Linked DNA regions of Homo sapiens. The protein of the gene in region 1 interacts with the protein of each later gene in a pairwise test. Each region holds a gene or a part of one and is shown on either strand. Other genes may lie near its edges.

Region 1 (7,029 bases):
CAAACTCCTGGCCTCAAGCAATCCTCCCATTTTGGCCTTCCAAAGTGTTAGGATTACAGGCCACCATGACCCACCGTACCTGGCCTATAATTTTTTTTTTTTTTTTGAGATGGAGTCTCACTGTGTTGCCAGGCTGGAGTGCAGTGGCATGATCTCAGCTCACTGCAACCTCTGCCTCCTGGGTTCAAGTGATTCTCCTGCCTCAGCCTCCTGAGTAGCTGGGACTACAGGCACTTGCCACCACGCCTGGCTAATTTTTGTATTTTTAGTAGAGACAGGATTTCACCATGTTGGTTGGCCAGGCTGGTCTCGAACTCCTGACCTCAAGTGATTCTCCCACCTCGGCCTCCCAAAGTGCTGGGATTACAGGCATGAGACACCACACCTGGCCACTCAATGGCTTTTAAATAGTTTCTTTTACCAGAATATTTTAGGCAAGTCTCTGTTGTCAAAAGCAAAGTCCAGGGTTTTAGTCCCAGCCATCTTTCTTACTTAGTGTGTGGTCTACTATGGCCACACCTCTCAGAGCCTCCATTTCCTCATCTCTTAAGTGGGCATGTCAATTATGTCTGCCTCAGTGGGATCTAGGATAAGAAATAGATGTTTTTATTTATTTATTTAGTGTGTGAGAGACAGGGTCTCACTCTCTCCAGGCTGGAGTGCAGTGGTGCAATCTCAGCTCACTGCAACCTCTGCTTAACATGCTCAAGTGATCCTCCCACCTCAGCCTTCTAAGTAGCTGGGACTACAGGTGTGTCACGCCACCACACCCAGCTAATTTTTTGTATTTTTTGCAGATACTGGGTGTCACTATGTTGCCCAGGCTGGCCTCAAACTCCTGGACTTAAGTGCTCTGCCCACCTGGGCCCCCTAAAGTGCTGGCATTACAGGTGTGAGCCACCGTGCCTGGCATAGGAGATGTTATTAAACTGTCAAGTACCCCAAACCATAGGACATTATTTTAAAATTATTATGAACATAACGATGAAAACTGAATCTTGTTTTCACCTCAGACCCAAGTCTGCCCTTCCAGGGACTTCAACTCCAGTGATGGTTTCTTCTGTGTCCAGGGCGCTGAAGCGCAGGATCTTCTCCCGCAGGGAAGGAGGTTCCTGAGGCAGAACCTCCCTTCTTTGGAGGCTTGGGGTTCTTTGGTTTCAGAAGTAGATGGAGGGACTTGGTCTGTTCAAGGAACTGGGATAAAAATTGGGCTGATGGCCGGGTGCTCACGCCTGTAATCCCAGCACTTTGGGAGGCTGAGGCGGGCGGATCACTTGAGGTCATGAGTTCCAGACCAGCTTGGCCAACATGGGGAAACCCCATCTCTACTAAAAATACAAACATTAGCAAGCGTGGTGGTGCATGTCTGTAGCTTCTTGGGAGGCTGAGGTAGGAAAATCGCTTGAACCCTGAAGGCAGAGGTGGCAGTGAGCCGAGAGTGTACCACTGCACTCCAGCCTGGGCGACAGAGCGAGACTCCATCTCAAAAAAAAAAAAGTTGGGCTGAGGTTGGAGCAGTCCAAATGGGCCTTTAGGGGTCCTCCTATTTGATAGATGGAGAAACTGAGGTACATAGTAGGAAAAGTTGCTAAAATTACACGCGAAGGCTTAAAGCCAGGGTGCCTTGATGCCAGAGGCCAATGGCCAAAGGCTACTGCCCCGTGAGGGGGACTAGGAGGCACCTGGGGCATTACAGGGTGAGAGGGTGTCAGATGGCAGTCTCTGGTCTCAACCAGCTCTTGCCTTTCTTTCTCAGTTCATCTCAAAGAAGGACCCAGAGGATGTCAAAGAGGTGAGGCTCCTGGGAGGAAGAGGGACTGTTCTGCAGTTCCAGATCTGGAAACTGTCAAGGGGCAGCTGGTAACTCTGCTTGGACATCGGCCCTCCTTCCTCCCTGTCCCTGGGCGAGGGGCTGCTGCAGCTGCTTCCTGATCCTCACGCCCCCTGGGGGCAGGCTAGGCATGGGGGCGGCTGCCTCCCACCATTGCTGGTTCTGGGCAAGTCTCATGTACCTCATAGGTGGTGGTCTGGAAGCGGTACAGCGACTTCCGCAAGCTGCATGGAGACCTGGCCTACACCCACCGCAACCTCTTCCGCCGCCTCGAGGAGTTCCCTGCTTTCCCCCGGGCCCAGGTGTTTGGTGAGTGTTAGATTGGGGCACTCGGGCCAAAGATGGAGGGAGCATTGGGCAAAAGGGGACCTCCGCCAGTGGGGGCTGGATAGAGAGGGCCTGAAACCCTGGGCAGAGTCATGTTTGGAAGGGCCCTTAGAGATGACCTCATTTGACAGATGGGGAAACTGAGGCTCAGAGTAGCCTAACCCTTACTGTGTATTTCACCTTTTAACATTCCTGTTGGGCCAGGCGTGTGGCTCACGCCTGTAATCCTAGCACTTTGGGAGGCCAAGGCAAAACTCCATCTCAAAGGAAAAAAAATCCTGTCTTTATCAGCTCCATTTTATTTTCCTTTTTCTTTTTTGTTGTTGTTGACAGCCTCACTTTGTCACCCAGGCTGGAGTACAGTGGCGCTGTCTTGGCTCACTGCAACCTCCACCTTCCAGGTTCAAGGGATTCTCTTGCATCAGTCTCCCCAGTAGCTGGGATAACAGGTGTGCACCACCACGCCTGGCTAATTTTTGTATTTTTAGTAGAGACAGAGTTTCATCATATTGGCCAGGCTGGTCTTGAACTCCTGACCTCAGCTGACCTGCCCGCCTTGGCTTCCCAAAGTGCTGGGATTACAGGCGTGAGACACTGCACCCGGCCCATCTCAATACTTAGTATATTGATTACATGTTGCAATGAGAATATTTGGGATATATTGGGTTAAATAAAATATTAAAATTAACTTGTGGCTAGGTGTGATGGCTCACACCTGTAATCCCAGCACTTTGGGAGGCCGAGGCAAGCGAATCACGAGATCAGGAGTTTGAGACCAGCCTGGCCAACGTGGTGAAACCCCGTCCCTACTAAAAATACAAATAATTAGCTGAGTGTAGTGGCAAGTGCTTGTAATCTCAGCTACTCAGGAAGCTGAGGAAGGAGAATCGCTTGAACCTGGGAGGCAGAGGTTGCAGTGAGCCAAGAGTGTGCCATTGCACTCCAGCCCAGGCGACAGAGTGAGACTCCGTCTCAAAAAAAAAAAAAAAAAAAAAATTGTTTCTTTTTTCCTATTATTTAATCTAGCTGCTAGAAAATTTAAAATTGCATATGTAGCTCATATCTGTATTAGACAGTGCTGACCAGTTGCTTGGGTCTGCATACTCATGTGAGATGTTCTTTTTTGTTATTGGTTTTTGTTTTTGTTTTTTGAGACAGAGTCTCACTCTGTCACCCAGGCTGGAGTCCAGTGGCATGATATCAGCTCACTGCAAACTCTGCCTCCCAGGTTTGAGCGATTCTCCTGCCTCAGCCTCCCAAATAGCCAAGTAGCCACCCAAGTAGTGTGCGCCACCACACCTAATTTTTTTTTATTTTTAGTAGAGACAGGGTTTCACCATGTTGGCCAGGCTGGTCTCGAACTCCTAACCTCAAGTGATCCACCTGCCTCGGCCTCCTAAAACGCTGGGATTATAGGTGTGAGCCACCGCACCTGGCCGAGATGTTCTTTTGAAGCAAGGTAAAGGATTGCTGCTGTCAGGTTATGCCAGGCCAGTGGGGAAGTACCACAGACTGGCCGCACAGTAACTGGACCAGAGTTAGCCTGCTCTGCAAAATACCTAGGACAGAGCAGTGAAACTGTGGCTCGCACCTGTAATCTCAGTGCTTTGGGAAGCCAAGGCAAGGTAATCACTTGAGCTCAGGAGTTCAAGACCAGCCTGGGCAACATGGTAAAACCCCATCTCTACAAAAAATACAAAAATTAGCCAGGCATGATTGTGTGCACCTATAGTCCCAGCTACTTGGGAGGCTGAGGCGGGAGGGCGGCTTGATCCCAGGAGGCAGAGGTTGCAGTGAGCTGAGATCGTGCCACTGCACACCAGCCTGGGTAACACAGCCAGTCCTTTTCTCAAAAAATAAACGGGGGCTCCTTGCTTTGTGACCTTGGGCAAGTCACTTTCCCTCTCTGAGCCTTACTTTTCTCATTAGATCAAAGCCATCAGAAATGCTTTTGTTTCTTGTTAACTGCCTAGCTCCCCCTGGGTAGGATATGATATTCACAAGGGCAGAGACTGGTTCCTCCCCTGTTCACCTTCTGAGTCTAGCATATAGTAGGTGCTCAGTAAACATCTGGCAAATGAATGAATAGGGAAATTGATCCCTCCTGGAAGCCCCTACCTCACCCCAGGAGGAACCAGGGCAGATTGCTGGGAGAATGGGTAGGAGGGCAGTGAGTTGCTCAGAGCATCTCAGGCAGGACCAGGAAAAGTGGCCTTGGGGCAGAAGCCCCTGTGGGTCACCGCCACTCTCCCCTGTTCCTTGTCCTGGGGGCCGTAGGCCGGTTTGAAGCCTCAGTGATCGAGGAGCGGCGAAAGGGGGCAGAGGACCTGCTTCGCTTCACTGTGCACATACCTGCGCTCAACAACAGCCCCCAGCTCAAGGAGTTCTTCCGGGTATGTGCACCTTCCACCTTCCCAGAACTTGGGCCACTTACCCACCCACCAGATTGCACCCCATGACTCCCCATGTCTGATCTTTCTGTCCTGCAGGGTGGGGAGGTGACCCGACCCTTGGAGGTGTCCAGGGACCTACACATCCTGCCACCCCCTCTGATCCCCACCCCGCCCCCTGATGACCCCCGGCTATCCCAACTGCTCCCTGCAGAAAGGAGGGGCCTCGAGGAATTGGAGGTGCCAGGTACATCGGGGTGGGAGGAGGGAACCAGGGCTGGAGGGTGCAGAGTGGGGAGGGCGGCCACACTCCCTCCTCAGTGATCTTACTGAGAAATGTGTGTGTGTCCCAGGTCTATCACTTAACTGGCTGAGGAACTTTGGGCAGGTCCTTTTCCTTCTCTGTGCTACAGTTTCTTGATCTGTAAAATGAGCACAAACCCTAATAACAGGCTTGTCTATGCCCATGGTTGCTGCAAGGGTTTAAGGAGAGAGTAATTCTATTTTGAAAGCTGAGAAATAAACGCAGGTATTCATGACCCCACTTATCTCTTCCTCAGTGGACCCCCCACCATCCAGCCCTGCCCAGGAGGCCCTGGATCTCCTCTTTAACTGTGAGAGCACCGAGGAGGCATCTGGTTCCCCTGCCCGAGGCCCCCTCACCGAGGCTGAGCTTGCCCTCTTCGACCCCTTCTCCAAGGAAGGTAATGAGCTGGGACAGCCGGGAAGGAGCCAGGGCAGGACGTCCTTGGGACAGGGAGGAGGGCAGAGCCCCACTAGCCTGCTCAGTGCCTGCGCAGATCAGGGAGAGACGTCTCCTCAGCAGTGCTGCCCTGTGGGCCAATAGCAGCTTCAATGAGAATTAGAAGCCCTGTGCCAGGGCACGTGGTGTGGTGTGCTGGATGCACCTGTGCAACAAATAGCCACGAGGAAGGAAAGGAGGCACTTCCCATGTTGGGGCCATCTCACTGAGAAGGCTTTGGAAAGAGCCGGGTCACACTGCTCTGGGACATTTTAGTTCCTTCCCTGCAAGCTCTTGGTGGGATTTCCTGACTGGCCAGGGTCTGGCTGCAGATCCTGAAGGCAAGAGGCCTGCTGGTCAATGGGAGTGAGTTCTCAGCTCAAAGGGCAGCTGCAAAGGGAAATCCCTCTGGGGGCCTGGAGCCACTGGCATTTGGGGATGCTGGAGGTAGAAGGGCCCCCCCAATGGAGGTCAGGGTCCTGGGCACCTTCTTGCTGTGAGATCCTGGGACTCGACAGTCCCAAGCTCTGAGACACTGGAGTTTTTCATTCTAAAATTTGCCAACGCCTGGCACATTGGCTCACACCTGTAATCTCGACACTTTGGGAGGCTGAGGCAGGAAGATTGCTTGAGCCCAGGAATTCAAGACCAGCCTGGGCAATATAGCAAGAGTCCATGTCTGTTATTCTTTTTCTTTTTTTGAGACAGAGTCTCACTTTGTCGCCCAGTCTGGAGTACAGTGGCGCAATCTCTGCTCACTGCAACCTCCCAGGTCCAAGCGATTCTCCTGCCTCAGCCTCCTGAGTAGCTGCGACTACAGGCGCGCACCACGGTGCCTGCTAATTTTGTATTTTTAGTCGAGATGGGATTTTTCCATGTTGGTCAGGCTGGTCTCAAACTCCCGACCTCAGGTGGTGCGCCCGCCTCAGCCTCTGAAAGTGCTGGGATTACGGATGTGAGCCACCGCGCTTGGCCCGTTTTTTTTTTTGAGATCGAGTCTTGCTCTGGATTGCCGAGGCTGGAGTGCAGTGGCGCGATCTCAGCTCACTCCCACCTCCGCCTCCCGGATTCAAGCGATTCTCCTGCCTCAGCCTCCTGAGTGGCTGGGACTACAGGCGCGCGCCACCACGCCTGGCTAATTTTTGTATTTTGAGTAGAGACAGGGTCGCACCATTTTGGTCAGGCTGGTCTCAAACTCCTGACACTCAAGTGATCCACCTGCCTCCGCCTCCCAGAGTGCTGAGATTACGGGCGTGAGCCAAAATGCCCTGCCTCTTTCACTTTTCTTGTTCTGCCTCCTCCCGTTCCTGCTCCTGCCTCTCCAGGGTTGGGGAGTGGGAAGAAGGAATGGGAGGGAAAGGCAATGTTGGTGTCACAGGGCTGTTATGCCTGGCCTCTGGGTGGCAGGCATCCAAGTGCTCTGTCCTTGTGCCAGCTGAGTCCCTGCTGGGCAGCTAGCTGCCTGGGCAGGAGCTTTTCTATTTTTTTTCCTCTCCTTTTTAATTTTTTTATTTTTTTTTATTTATTTTTTGAGACAGAGTCTGGCTCTGTCACCAGGCTAGAGGGCAGTGGTGCGATCACGGCTCACTGCAGCCTCCAACTCCTAGGCTTAAGCGATCCTCCCACCTCAGCCTCCCAAATAGCTGGGACAGGACCACAGGCATGCACCATCATGCCCAGCTAAGTTTTTGATTTTTTGTAGAGATGAGATCTCACTATGTTGCCCAGGCTGGTCTCAA
Region 2 (7,029 bases), on another chromosome or scaffold:
TATTAAAGGTCTTAGAAGATGAGGAGTAACTCAATCTTTTCCTTTTTCTTTATGAAAAAGACATACTTGAGGGAAACTGAGGTAAGAGAAAAATATGAAATATATTTTTAAACAGGAATTTTTTTTTTTTTTTTTTGAGATAGTCTCCCCCTTGTCACCAGGCTGGAGTGCAATGACGCAATCTTGGCTCACTGCAACCTCCGCCTCCCAGGTTCAAGTGATTCTCCTGCCTCAGCCTCCCGAGTAGCTGGGATTACAGGCGCCTGCCACCACGCCTGGCTAATTTTTGTATTTTTAGTAGAGACGGGATTTTACCATGTTGGCCAGGCTGGTGGTCTTGAACTCCTGACCTCCAGTGATCCACCCACCTTGGCCTCCCAAAGTGTTGGGATTACAGGCATGAGCCACTGCGCCTGGCCACAGGAAGTTTAATGATTGACAAAAGCATACTAATCTTGTATTGGTATGGGAACAAAGAAAATAGTTCTGTCTTTGAACATTAGGGATTCAGGGGGTGACAGCACTCTCTTGGAATCTTGTGTGTTGGAATGCTGAGGTTGGAAGGCAATGGGGAAAGAATATTGCCTGTTCTACAGAGTTCCCTAATTCCATATTGATGATACCTATTGGGAAACTTTAGTTTTTTTAGTAAGTGTAAGAACATTGTGATTATGGTTGTGGATAGTTAACCATTTTCAATGTGTCTGGATTTCTTAATGCATTCAAGAGTTTGTTCATTAATTCAACCCATTATTGATTACCTACCAAGAGACAGGATCTATTCTAAGCTTTGAGGGTATAGCAATAAGCAAGACACATGCTCCCCCTTGGGAGAGTACAGATAATAAGCACATAAATAAAGAACCCAGAATAGTGGTGTTATGAGGAAAATAAACAGGATAATGGCATAGAGAATGATGGGGATTTATGGGGGCTTTTTTAGGTTAGGTGACACTAAGACAGGCTTAGAAGGTGAGATTTGAGCTGCAGAGAGAAAACATTTCCAAGCAACTTCAGGGCAAAACCCTGAGGCAGGAATGAGCTCTTTGTGTCTGAGAATCTAGTGTAAGACTAGTGAGAAAAACTAGTGGGAGAGTGAAGAGGTGGCCTTACCCACCCAGATCATTGGGGGTCTCTAACAGGCAATGGTAAAAATGTTTAGCTTTTTAAAAAAATAAAAATATGCTTATTAAATAATTATATTGTGATTTTGGAACTAAAATAAGTTTGGAAGATTCAGGGCTACTGAGAGGACTGATGTGAGACAAAGGTGAGAAATGTGCAGAGCAGGGTTAGAAGCATAGACTAGCCTGCCTGGAAGAGAGGGTTTCTAGATCACTGACACTTGTCTGTTTAACATTGCTGTTTACGTTATTTATGAGTAAGCCCTGATTTTCATCTGTTAATAAGTTGTAATTTTACTGTTTGCTGTTGTGCCCAGAGCATCTCCATCGCAATGCAGTAACTGAAGTGAGACTAAAACCTCTCACTTGAGGGCCATTTTTCATGGGAAAATACTTGGCTTAGTGGTTGGTTAAGTTAGGCTTTGAGGATATGCGCAGAAAACTCTGGCTAGAAATCGATTTGAGAGCAGTGCAAACATAATTAAGGGTGACTTCGAACTGGTCTCTGGACATGTTCTAAACCAAGGTTAATTAAGACCGAAAATATGTAGATCTGGATTCTGAAAGATACTGAATGCCAAATTAAGGAATTTGGATTTTATCATTCCACTTTAATCCATGCTCTGCTATCCAGTTGCCCTTGCTTTTGGTAATTTATATTATGAAACCAAAATTGTTTTTTTTAATTGTTGTTTCTAAAGTTATTGTTTTTCACCCCTTCTCGAATTAGAGCTTTTGGCTTTGGGAAGACAGCCATTGAAGGTTATTTGAACTGAGGCAAGGCACCGTGAAAGCAGTATTAGAAAATTGGTGACAATATTCAAGATAGGTGGGAAGGAAAAGCAGATGAATTATTTAGAAAGCTATTACAGTAGTTCTGAGAAAGATGAGTAGGGCCTGAACTATTTCATTATTTGTTCATTCAGTGAAAATGGAATAGAAGGGAGGAATATAAGAGTATAAGAAGCACGCTTTCTTTAATTGGCTGTGAATCTGTTTTTATAGTTAGTTTACGAAGAGGCTGTATGAAAGACGAATTGATAGGACTTGGAAACCATGAATGTAAAGACAAAGAAAAGAATATTAGTGCTTATTAAATCAGTTTCAGAGACTGCCAAAATTTAATTGCCATGAAAATTTGTATAAAATTGAATATTGCTCATAAATACAGATTATGGGTTGGGGCTTAAAAATTACTAGTTTTTACTATCATGAAGCCATTTATTATATGATCATTTTTATTGGCGTAGTAGCATGTATTAGAAATTTTAAGATTTTGAGTGACATATGGTTTAAATATTAGGTATCAGTTCTTAATATAAAGTCCAAGTTCCCAGGAAGTGGATGCTTCTAAACACAAGAAAGTCATGCCCTGTCCATTCCCCACTTTCATTTTTGTGATTCTGAATAATTTCTGGTTAAGCCATTTCTTATTTTTAAAAGTTGGGAATAAGTAGTATACTCCTCATGGATATGGTGAATTATGTTTCAGATTGGTTCCTGGGCAACTGAGTGTCAAATTTGTGGTCTTTTTTTTTTTTTTTTTTTTTTTTTAGTGATTTGCAAACTCTCTCAAATCCTTTTTAAAATGAAGTGATGGGTATATGTGGAACCACTGATAAATAACTGCATGGAATAGTGTTTAGAAAACATGCTATTTTAGTGCTATATTATTGTAAACTTAAAGGATTTGCCATGTTATAAAAACATTTCTGAAAAGGAGCATGTTACCTATTGTCCATTAATTGGCTTTGTTTTATGTGTAGTTATTTTCTTTTTAAAAATCTAAAAACCAAAAAACAATGGTCTCACTTTTGTCCAGGCTGGTCTCAAACTTGGGGCCTGAAGCAATCCTCCTGCCTGGACCTCCCAAAGTGCTGGGATTACAGGCATGAGCCACCATGCCTGGCAAGTTTTTTTGTTTGTTTGTTTGTTTGTTTGTTTCTTTTGAGACAGAGTCTTACTCTGTCGCTCAGGCTGGAGTGCAGTGGCATGATTATGGCTCACTATACCCTTGACCTCCTGGGCTTAAGCAGTCCTCCCACTTCAGCCCCCCAGGTAGCTGAGACTACAGGTGCACACCACCATGCTGGCTATTTTTAAAATTTTTTAAAAAAACTTTTATATTTATGTATTTATATTTTGGAGACAGGGTCTTGCTCTTTCACCCAGGCTAAAGTATAGTGGTGCAGTCTTGGCTCACTGCAGCCTCATCTTCTGGGCTCAAGTGATCCTGCCACCTCAGCCTCCCAACTAGCTGGGACCACAGGCACGTACCACCACGCCCGGCTAATTTTTGTGTTTTTCGTGCAGATAGGGTTTCGCCATGTTGCCCAGGCTGGGCTCAAATTCCTGAGGTCAAGCAGTCTTCTCGAAGTGCTGGGTTTACAGGCGTGAGCCACCACACCCAGCCTAAATATATTTTTATTTTTATTTTTATTTTATTTTATTTTTGAGGTGGAGTCTTGCTCTGTAGCCCAGGCTGGAGTGCAGTGGCGCAATCTTGGCTCACTGCAACCTCCACCTCCTAGGTTCCAGCAATTCTCCTGCCTCAGCCTCCCGAGTAGCTGGGACCACAGGCATGTGCCACCACACCTGGCTAATTTTTGTATTCTTAGTAGAGACGGGGTTTCACCATGTTGGCCAGGCTGGTCTTGAACTCCTGACCTCAGGTGACCCACCTGCCTCGGTGTCCCACAATTCTGGGATTACAGGTGTGAGCCACTGCTCCCAGCCTTATTTTTATTTTTTTAAAGATGGGGTCTTACTATGTTGGCCAGGTTGGTCTTGAACTCCTGGGCTCAAGCAGTTCTCCCACCTCGACTTCTGAAAGTGTTGAAATTACAGGTGTGAGCCACTGTGCCCCGCCATTTATTTTCATAATATACCTTCAAGCAACTTATTAGAATAACTTGATTCAAAGCCTCAATTTAATGGTTCCTTTTTAAGGTACTTTGCTAGCCCAGGATAAAAGTATAAACTGAATGGCTATTTCTTGATTCTTCCCTGGAACCCTTAAATAAATAGAAGTAAATGTTGCAGATATACTATACTTATGGTACATTCTTTGAGACTTTTTGTTCCTGTTTCTAAAGGGATCAGGTTCTTCTGAGGATGACAGCACTAGGGATGGGAACTGTAATGGTAAAACCATAGTTCTCAGTAGTGTTTGAATGAATGTGACCTTTGTGGATAGCTAGTGCAGGACATAGGTATGCAAAATGATGAGACCCAGCTTTACTGATGCTAAGATTTTCTCAGACTAATGCCATCATCATCCTTTTTAACCCCAAAGGAGGAGTTGATAATTTCATATTTAAGCTATTGATATTTATGTTTCTTGGAATGATGATCATTGATTTTTAAGTTGCTTTCATCACGTGTTTCCATAATATTCTGTTCTTACCTCTTCATAGTATATATCATTCTATATAAGGTAATGGTATGGTTACTGATTTCTTTCCTCCACCAGACAGTGTACTCCTTGAGGAAAGGTGCTGTGACCTTTTTCTTTGAGGAAAAGGACTGTATGCATTGTGTCTGCATTGCAGTGCCTTAGATGTGATAGGCACTCAGTTTGTTGAATGAGAAAGATGCTGATCTTCATATTCTGTATAGTTCTAGAATTACTATAATATCTTCTCTCAATAAAAATCCCAAATCTTACGAAAGCATTTATTTATTTATGTATACAAGGTAACAATTCCAAACAGTACTACAAGAATACACAGAAAAGTAACTCTTTCTACCTGTTACCCAGATTTCCACAAATTGTCTTCTGTAGATCCACCCTCTGTTAGTAGTTTCTTGAGTATCTGTTTAGAGATAATCTGTGGATAAATATTTATTTATACATGTATATCCTTTTCACTTTATTTTCCACAAAAATAGATGCAGAGGACTCTGGGGATGTACCATATTTTATTTAATCAGTCCCTTATTGATGGTTATTTAGGTTGATACTTAGTTTTTTCTCTTACAAATACTATTTCTGTGAACACTCTTGTATACACTTCTTTGGGAATACATGCCATTATATATGTTGTAGGATAAATCTGTGCAAGTAGAATTACTGCTTCAAAGGATATTTGCATTTAAAATGTTGGTAGCTAATGCCAAAGTGTCATTCAAAGAATGGTTCCAACCTTTATTCCCACCAACCTGTTAAGGTACCTTTTCCCTTATATCTTTACCAACACAGTATATTAGTGAACTAATACATTGTTTAGCAAATTGTTCTTTTAAATTTGAGTCATTTTTCATAGGCTTAGGTGTCAAATTTTTTCTGATCACAGCTTTTGCCTATTCTTTTGGGTTTTTGGTCTCATGTATGTAGATTCACTTAATCTGCATTGTAAGGAAACTAGCCTTTTGTCATATGTCTTGAAAACTTTTTATTGATTTGTTATTTGTATTTTGACCATATGGTATGTTTTTCTGTTTAGAAATTTTTATGTAGTCAGATTTATCATTTTCTTTTATGACTTTGAGTCATAAAAGTGAAAAAAGTCATTGAGTTTTATGTAATCCTTAGAAAATCCTTCTTGAGGATCATAAAAATTTTCCCCCATGTTTACTCCTAGTAAGTACTTTTATACTTTTTATGATTTCATTTTAACATTTAATTATTTGATTTATTTGCAGTTTGTTTTGTTCTAGAGAGTGAAGTAGTGAAATAATTTTATATTTCAAGATTATTTCCCATTTGTTCCAATACCTTTTATTTTGAATTATCCTTCTTAACCACTTTGAAGTACCATTTTTGTCATATTCTTGTAGTATGGGTGAAATATTTCCTCTGCTTTTCCATTTATCTGTCAGTTCACACAGAAGTATCAGACTGTTGTGCTATAATTTTTAAATACTAGCTAAACGGCTTTTCCATAAATATTTTTCTTGGCTATCTTATGTGTGTATAATTTTCTACTTCATCTTAAAATTTTTTTTATCTTGTCCCCTCTCCCTCTGTTGGAGTTTTAGTAGGTTGCATTACATTTATGGATTAATTTTGGGGAGAATTGAAATACATTCGGTGTTGATATTGTGTATTTTTCCATAAACACGTGGTTTTTATTAACATGTATTTAAAAAAAATTTAGCATATAATTAGGTGAACTAGAGACTTTTAAAAATAAATATTCTAGCCTCCTTGTAACATACTGAATTATACAGGTATTTGGCTCTCTCTTTTCAATTGATAATTGACTGAGAAAGAAAGCTAAGTCTTCCTGCTTTTTCATTTCCAAAAAAAAAAAAAAATTGTGTTGAGAAAGAAAGAAATATTCTCTGTACTCTTGTATTAGGAGCTATAGCTGCCAAATACTGGATTTTTTTTTTTTAAAGCAGTCTCTTTACATAGGTGGCCCTCTACTTTTCAAAAATAATTATTTCTTTAATAGCTTGTTTTTCTCATTGATGGAATTGTTACCACAGATACAGAAAGTTTATAAAGTTTTGTTGTTCAAGAGTTTGGAGTTGCTGCTTATATTGGTGGTCTCTTGGAAGTTCAATATTAAGAAAAAAATTAATATATTCCTTTTTTTTTTTAACTAGGCCTAGGGCTGAGTAAGAGGACAAGAAAGATGAATAGAGGTTGTACTTATGAGAGGTATAGGTAGCAGATGAAGGAAAAAATACAGGCCCTTAGTTGTAAAGAATTTTCTGCTCTTAAAACCAGAGGAGTTTTGTGATTGGCCTTACAGGACATATTTACAGATCTGTGAACTGCTTTTGTGGAAAGAGAGAAGCTTACTTAAGGATTCCAGGTCTGCCTACGTGTTCTTTCTCCCCAACTTTGTAGGTTGATTTATAAACTCGCCTAAATGGAAGGTGCCATTATTGAGTTCATTTATCTCAGTGCCCTGACAACCGTAGATGGAGGTGACCTAAAAGTGTTACAACTTTT

Evidence for each region. Proteins that work in one complex are often made in the same cells at the same time.
Region 2: the proteins of SNX15 (region 1) and RTN4 interact in binary tests that used the Homo sapiens proteins (3 or more experiments, as listed by UniProt).

The regions. Positions count from the first base shown.
Region 1 is NC_000011.10:65,030,412-65,037,440, forward strand, and holds part of SNX15 (sorting nexin-15), read left to right. Parts: intron 1-1,756; coding exon 1,757-1,792; intron 1,793-2,019; coding exon 2,020-2,140; intron 2,141-4,435; coding exon 4,436-4,551; intron 4,552-4,647; coding exon 4,648-4,795; intron 4,796-5,108; coding exon 5,109-5,252; intron 5,253-7,029. UniProt on the Homo sapiens protein: May be involved in several stages of intracellular trafficking. Overexpression of SNX15 disrupts the normal trafficking of proteins from the plasma membrane to recycling endosomes or the TGN.
Region 2 is NC_000002.12:55,040,435-55,047,463, reverse strand, and holds part of RTN4 (reticulon-4), read left to right. Parts: intron 1-137; exon of another isoform or gene 138-648; intron 649-7,029. UniProt on the Homo sapiens protein: Required to induce the formation and stabilization of endoplasmic reticulum (ER) tubules. They regulate membrane morphogenesis in the ER by promoting tubular ER production.